Linked DNA regions of Homo sapiens. The protein of the gene in region 2 interacts with the protein of the main gene of each other region in a biochemical or structural test. Each region holds a gene or a part of one and is shown on either strand. Other genes may lie near its edges.

Region 1 (3,500 bases), on a different chromosome or scaffold from region 2:
GCCCAAGCACCCACATACAGCCCCCAGTGCCCTCCAGACCTGCCAACCTTTGCACAGCTCGCATTGTCTTACACTTGAGGCTCAGCCTCACACCAGCCCTTCCAATCCCCTGCACACTCCTGACTCTTTCTTACCTCTGTGCTTCTGCTCAAGCTCTTCTGTGGCCCAGAATGCCCTCCCCCTCTTCCTCATTCTTCCACTCAGCTCAAGTGGTCCTTCCTCCAGGAAGCCCTCCTCACCCACCCCAGGCTGGGTTAGACACCTGTCCTTTATGCTCCCAAAATGCATAGTGTATCCACCTCTATCACTGTCATTACCAAATTGTCCTATAATTTTCTCTTTTAGTCAATCTCTCCCCAACCTGATACATGGCAGGTGACCTTAGAAAGACATACACACAAAACGCCCAAAGGCAGAAGGACAGGCAAGATGAATTCTAGAGATTCTCCAACATGTGCATGCTAGCCCGCACCAATCACACACTCCACAAGCTGGCAGTCAACAAACATCCACCCACGCACTCACCAGACAGGTGTGGGGGCAGCCCCCTCTACCTGCAGCCACTCAGGTCATCACCTGGGCATGATTTTCTTCTACAATCCCCTTCAGGGGGGCCTCTTGTGCCACATGTCCCATTCCCAAAGCCCTCTGTAGCTAATACCCCATCCCCTACTGTGCCTCCCCAAGCACAGTGCCCTTGTGCCCACCTCCCTGGAGCACTGTACCTTGGCCAGGGATCTTACTATGGGACTTTCCATAATGCCTCGAAGGAAGATCAGGTCCAGCTCTGCAGCCCCCGTGGCACTGGGGAGGGATCCCAAGTTGTCCAGGACTTGCTGCATGGCTGGGGGAAGGTACGGGCAGTGAGATACACAGGTACCAGCTGGGTACAGAAGACCAAAACACACCACAATACTTGCCACTTCCCCACCCCCATGTCCCACAGAAGGCAGCCCCTCCCCGGCAACATTCCCCTCCCTGCCCAGCACAGGCACCCCAGGCCCTTGAATGCCTGGGACAGGGATCCTGGAGGAAGGGGACAATTTCCTTGGCCTGTTCTCTCCACCCTAGGTAATGCCAGCCTGAGCAGGTGGGAGGCTCCAGGCAGCTGGAAGAGACTCTGAGGTGGAGAGAAGGGAGAAAGGGAAGCAGGTGTCAGGTTGCAGATCCTGCCCTGCACCAGAAAACCACAAGCTGTTGGGTGGATCACTTGAGGCCAGGAGTTCAAGACCAGCCTGGGCAACAAGGCAAAACCCCATCTCTACTAAAAATACCAAAATTAGCCAGGCATAGTGGTGTAGGTCTGTAATTCTAGCTACTCAGGAGGCTGAGGCAGGAGAACTGCTTGAACCTGTGAGGCAGAGATTGCAGTGAGCTGAGATCACGCCACTGCACTCCAGCCTGGGTGGCAGAGCAAGACTGTCTCTGGCCGGGCGCGGTGGCTCACGCCTGTAATCCCAGCACTTTGGGAGGCCGAAGCGGGTGGATTGCCTGAGGTCAAGAGTTCAAGACCAGCCTGGCCAACACAGGGAAACCCTGTCTCTACTAAAAATACAAAAAATTAGCTGGGCGTAGTGGCAGGCGCCTGTAATCCCAGCTACTCGGGAGGCTGAGGCAGGAAAATCGCTTGAACCCAGGAGGCGGAGGTTGCAGTAAGCTGAGATCCTGCCATTGCCCTCCATCCTGGGCGACAGAGCAAGACTCCGTCTCAAAAAAAAAAAAAAGAAAAAGAAAAGAAAACCACAAGCTCCTCACTCAACCTCTAGATGGGCTGAAGCCCAGGGCTCAGCCACCTGTACCTGGCAGGCTCAAGGATGAGACAGACAGTACTCGGAGCAAGTCCGTGAGTACAGGCCCAGAGTCAAGCAGGCAGCCACACAGGAGCCAGGGCCTGCAGCCTCCAGTCTAAGCACCACTAATTCAGTGTGACATTGTACAAGTCACTGTCCCTCACTGGCCTCAGTCTTTCCTGCCTGTAAAATGGATGGATTGGGCTAGATGATGTTTACAGGCCTTCAGCTCTGAGTGACAATGATCTATAATCACTGAGAAATTAACATGGATGATAGGAAGTCAAAGCTGAGGCCTGGAACGCTGGCAGGAGCTAGGGAAACAGGCACTGGAGGCCTTGGTGTGACCCAAAGGCTGAGGTCACACCAAGTCATCACAGGGATAAGCAAACTCTCAGCCCGAAATGGGACATAATGGAGGACACGATAACACCTGCAGCTGGGCCGCAACAATGCCCCCGAGACCTGAGGTGAGGGCTGCCTTCACTCACTGACAGAGGTGGGAGTTCCAGGCTGTGGCAAGTTCCGGGGAAAGGAAGCGAGAAGCAGAATGTGCCCAGCTGGGGGCAGAGATGGGCGAAGGGTATCATTACTCTGCCACCATGCCGCCCATGCCTACATCTGCATAACAGTACCCAAGCCACGGAGGACGGCGGAGGATGCACCCCTGGCGCCTCTCAATGCTCTTGTCAGTGCCCCCCTCCTCCAGGAAGGAACAGGAGTGGGGAGGAGGGGGCACTGGAACTGGAGCTGGCAGAGATGGTTCAGGGACTCCTGGACTCCCATCTCCTTCCTCCTCCTGCTCCCTGCCTTCTCCAGAAAAAAAAGTGCAAGCTTGCCCTTCAGACCCCTCTTGCCCAGGCCGGGGCTTGGCATTGGTCAGAGACCTGCGAGGCCCTCAGTGGGCTCTGAAAGAGGCCAGGGCAGGGACCCTTCCCTTCCTGCCAGGGTATGCCAGATTCCCTCCGTTATCTAGGGGAGGACTGAGCCAAGGGAGTTGGTGCCCTCTGCCCAGGACAGCTCTCCTGAAGGTGCCCTCAGATGACCTCTCCCAGGCCACCCTCCCCAGATGCCCCGACTCTGCTGGAGGAAGGTAGGCTAAGGGGCCAGCTGCCCCGCCCCCATCTGGCCCGCCCTTCCCTACCTTCCCTCTGGAGCTCCGCTTCCTCAGAAGACTCCAGGGATATACCCTCCAAGGAGACCCCGCTGCCTGGGCTGCCTGCCATGGCGGCCCCCAGACCCGGGGACTCCCGGAGCGTCCTACACGCCGCCGTCTACCGCCTCCCCAGCCAAAGCCTGGCCGGGCTGGGGAAGGCGGGAGTCGAGGAGCGCCCTCTGAGGAACCAGCCAATGGGAAGGCTCAGCCGCCGTGACCGCCTTGCTGATTGGCTAAAGCCCTGACTGGCGCTGCGCGGTGCAGAGCAGGCGGTAACCCGGGTGGGAGAAGAGTGGTGGGAGGGAGCCCTAGTCCCACAGATTGCCCGATCCCCAGCATGTCAGTGTCGGTGGGGATGGGGAGGAGGCGGCTAACAGGAAGTTTTGAGGAGGGGGTAGGCATGCTGCCCCTTCAAGACTGGCGCGGTACTCCGAGACCCTCCCCTCACAGCCAGCTTCAGGAGACCCGAGGGAGAAAAGTCTTGGCCCATCTTGTCCCTGTACCCTCTTTTCTAGAAGCCCCTCCTCTAATACACCCCATGCCACCTCCTCCCT
Region 2 (3,500 bases):
TTGTATTTTTTATAGAGACGGGGTTTCACCACGTTGCCCAGGCTGGTCTCAAACACCCAGGCTCAAGCGATCTGCCCAACTCGGCCTCCCGAACTGCTAGGATTACAGGTGTGAGCCACTGCATCCAACCTGAATCTTTTTTTTTCTCAAGATCCGTCTGGACTCATGGATAAAGGACAATTTTTAGGACTTTAGAGTTTAGTATGAATCAAATGAGAAGTCCCCCAGCGGATTCTGAACCGAGGAGTGCCACGGTCTCAGTAAAATGGAAAAACCTGTGGGCAGCCAGGGCAGAAGCTGGAGGGCGACCAGAGCAGTCAGAGGCTGCAGCCACAACACAGGTGGAGCGCGTGTGGGCTGGGGCACAACGGGGGTGGGGGGCAGATTGTGAATCTATTTCAAGGTTGCCTGATGCTGGAGTGGGGAGAGGGAGGGAAAGGAGGAGAGAACAGTACCAGAGAAGATGCCAAAGACTGCTCAGCGTAGAGAACAAGGGGGCCAGGAACCGAGAGGGAGACAGGAGGAGAAGCAGCCTCAGGGAGCAGATCGGGAGGTCAGTTTTGGACAGGGTAAGATGGGAACAGCTACGGGCTATCCAAGTAAAGATTGTGAGTGGGCAGCAGATATGTGGGAGACTCCAGCCGGCAGATAGAAATTTGAGAGTTGTCTAAATATGAAAGACGGTATTTAAAACCACAGAACTGAATGAGATCACCAAGGAAGAGAGCAGGCAGAAGAAAAAAAAAATCCAAGAGCAGAACCCCAAGATTTGAAGGGTCCAAACGGGAGGCCCTGACAGGGGAGATGTCGGCCACTGAGGGAGGAAAGGGAACCACAGCATAGTGGTGTGATAAGAAACAGTGAGTAAATAAAGATTTTTCTACAGCTGAAGCCTAACATTAGAACTTGGAGTTCTATATAATATAAATACTCACTAATCCAGCTGGGCGCGGTGGCTCACGCCTGTAATCCCAGCACTTCGGGAGGCCGAGGCAGGCGGATCACGAGGTCAAGAGACCGAGACCATCCTGGCCAACATGGTGAAACCCTGTCTCTACTAAAAATACAAAAAGTAGCTGGGTGCGGTGGTGTGCGCCTGTAGTCCCAGCTACTTGGGAGGCAGAGGCAGGAGAATCGCGTGAACAAGGGAGACGGAGGTTGCACTGAGCTGAGATCGCACCACTGCACTCCAGCCTAGGTGACAGAGCAAGACTCTGTCTCAAAAACAAAAAAAAAAGTACTTGCTGATGCGCCACGCTGCTTCCCCCTCCATCCCCCCACCAGAAGGCTCTGGCACTGTTCCATCCCCTAAGACACACAGACCATGGCCAACACGTCAGACTGCTTTGGCTGTTCTCTCCCCATGCTGTCCCAGGTGCTCAGTCCCACCACAGCCCCCACCACCACCCACTCATCCCCAACTGGATTCCCAAACATGCAATTACCTTCCACATCCTACTCAGCAGTTCTCACGGGACACAATACAGCTGGGACGGACTTGTGGACCACATTCCTAACTGAAATCTTTGAAAAACCTGAATGTACTCTGCAAACTTGGCTAACAGAATGCTACTGTGAGTAGAATAAATTATTAAATGAAAAAATACACTTTTTGGAAGACATTGTTAACCGTGCAGTAATGTAACCAAGAACCACGAATTCAGGTTTCACTATAAAAACCACCCTGATCAAAACAATGGCTGTGGCTCTCATGCAAAACAAACAGTAAAGCTGAAGCGGGGAGAGACTCCAACACCATTTCATCTAAAAAGGACCTTATCGCCTAGACTCCTTTGCTTATGGAAATTAAACTCCAAAGACCATCTGAGCCAAGGGCTATACTTTGATATTTAGAAGGTGATCACACTACTTAAACTCACTGCAATTTGGGATTTCTAAAATGCATTTTCCGAAGCCAAAACAAAGAGTGTTTACTTAGTCTAGCCTTGAAGGAGAAGGGCTCCCAGTCTAAAGCTTAAATATCTTTAGCATAGATCTCTGAAAATCTATAAATACGGCAGAAAAATAACTTTTGCAGTAAAAATCAGATATTAATATCTTCATATTTCTTCATTAGGGAGACCTTCATGTAAAATGCTTCCATCAATTACTGTGACTGCACATTCTTCACAAAACAGAACACAGCCCCTGTGCTGAAAACCTAACTGCATATATTCAAGTGTTTAGATGACCTCAAGCTCAAGTCTTCGAAGGGTTTCACACGCCACAGAGACAGGACATTAGGTGAGACACAGCATCACACAATGCACCAATTCTGTTAAACGCCGCATATTTATTACTGAGCGGTCACAATTCTTACAAGCACAAGTAGTCATTCTAGCCTTTATGGAACAGGACATTATTAAACTTTTCATTTCACATGTTATGATAAAAACACAAAATTATTAAGTTGAGAACTCTGTGTTCTCCCTCACTGTGCTCTTCTCCACTCTCATTTTCTATCAACATAGTGAAAGCGTCAGTAGAATTTAACTCATGATTAAAATTTGGAATTTCGAGTTCAGTTCAGTGTCACATTTTTAAAGTATTTTTAAGAGATCTCTAAATTGCAAGCATCTTTCTTCCCCCGAGACAGGGTCTTGCTCTATCTCCCAGGCTGGAGAGCAGTGGCACCATCATAGCTCACTGCAGCACCAACCTTCCAGGCTCAAGTGATCCTCCCGCCTCCGCCTCCGGGGTACCTGGGCGTACCACCATGCCCAGCTAATTTTTTGTATTTTTGTAGAGATGGGGTTTCACCATGTTGCCCAGGCTGGTCTCGAACTCCTGAGCTCAACTGATCGACCTGCCTGGACCTCCCAAAATGTTGGGATTACAGTTGTGAGCCACTGGGCCTGGCCGGCAAACACATTTTCAAAGCAGGATCATGAAGTTGTCAAGAGATTATGAATTGTAAACGAGTTTTTTTGTTTGTTTGTTTGTTTTGGAGACAGTCTTGTTCTGTCACCTAGACTGGAGCACAGCGGTGCAATCGTGGCTCACTGCAACCTCTGCCTTCTGGGTTCAAGCGATTCTCATGCCTCAGCCTCCTGAGTAGCTAGGAATACAGGCATGCACCACCATGACCAGCTAACTTTTGTATTTTAGTAGAGACGGCCAGGCTAATCTCGAATTCCTGGCTGCAAGTCATCCACCCACCTCAGCCTCCCAAAGTGCTGGGATTACAGGCATGAGCCACCGCACCCAGCGTAAATGGCTTTTTAAAAATACTGTATATTAAAAAGAATGTTGAATGATTTCTAAAATTTCAGACATTCCAAATAAAATTTACAACAGGAAAAAAAAAACTCTCTATTTTTCTAGTTCAATTATCATAGCCATGTCGGTACTTTTAAAAGCTTTCATCCTTACACTGAAATACTAATGAGTAGATCCTGTTTATTTTCTGGGTGTACACTAATTCTTTTCAACCCATCTTCATATGATTTTCAGCATGAACGGAGGAAGCTGTGACCCTAGAAATTGAGCAGCAGCCTTAG

The links. The genes of interacting proteins can lie anywhere in the genome.
Region 1: the proteins of FAT1 (region 2) and MPP2 interact in a test that uses a peptide from one of them, tested with the Homo sapiens proteins (one large-scale study listed by IntAct).

The regions. Positions count from the first base shown.
Region 1 is NC_000017.11:43,897,537-43,901,036, forward strand, and holds part of MPP2 (MAGUK p55 subfamily member 2), read right to left. Parts: intron 3,089-3,500; exon of another isoform or gene 3,017-3,088; coding exon of another isoform or gene 2,935-3,016; intron 845-2,934; coding exon 726-844; intron 1-725. UniProt on the Homo sapiens protein: Postsynaptic MAGUK scaffold protein that links CADM1 cell adhesion molecules to core components of the postsynaptic density. In CA1 pyramidal neurons, required for synaptic KCNN2-containing channel function and long-term potentiation expression.
Region 2 is NC_000004.12:186,713,857-186,717,356, forward strand, and holds part of FAT1 (protocadherin Fat 1 isoform 1 precursor), read right to left. Parts: intron 1-3,500.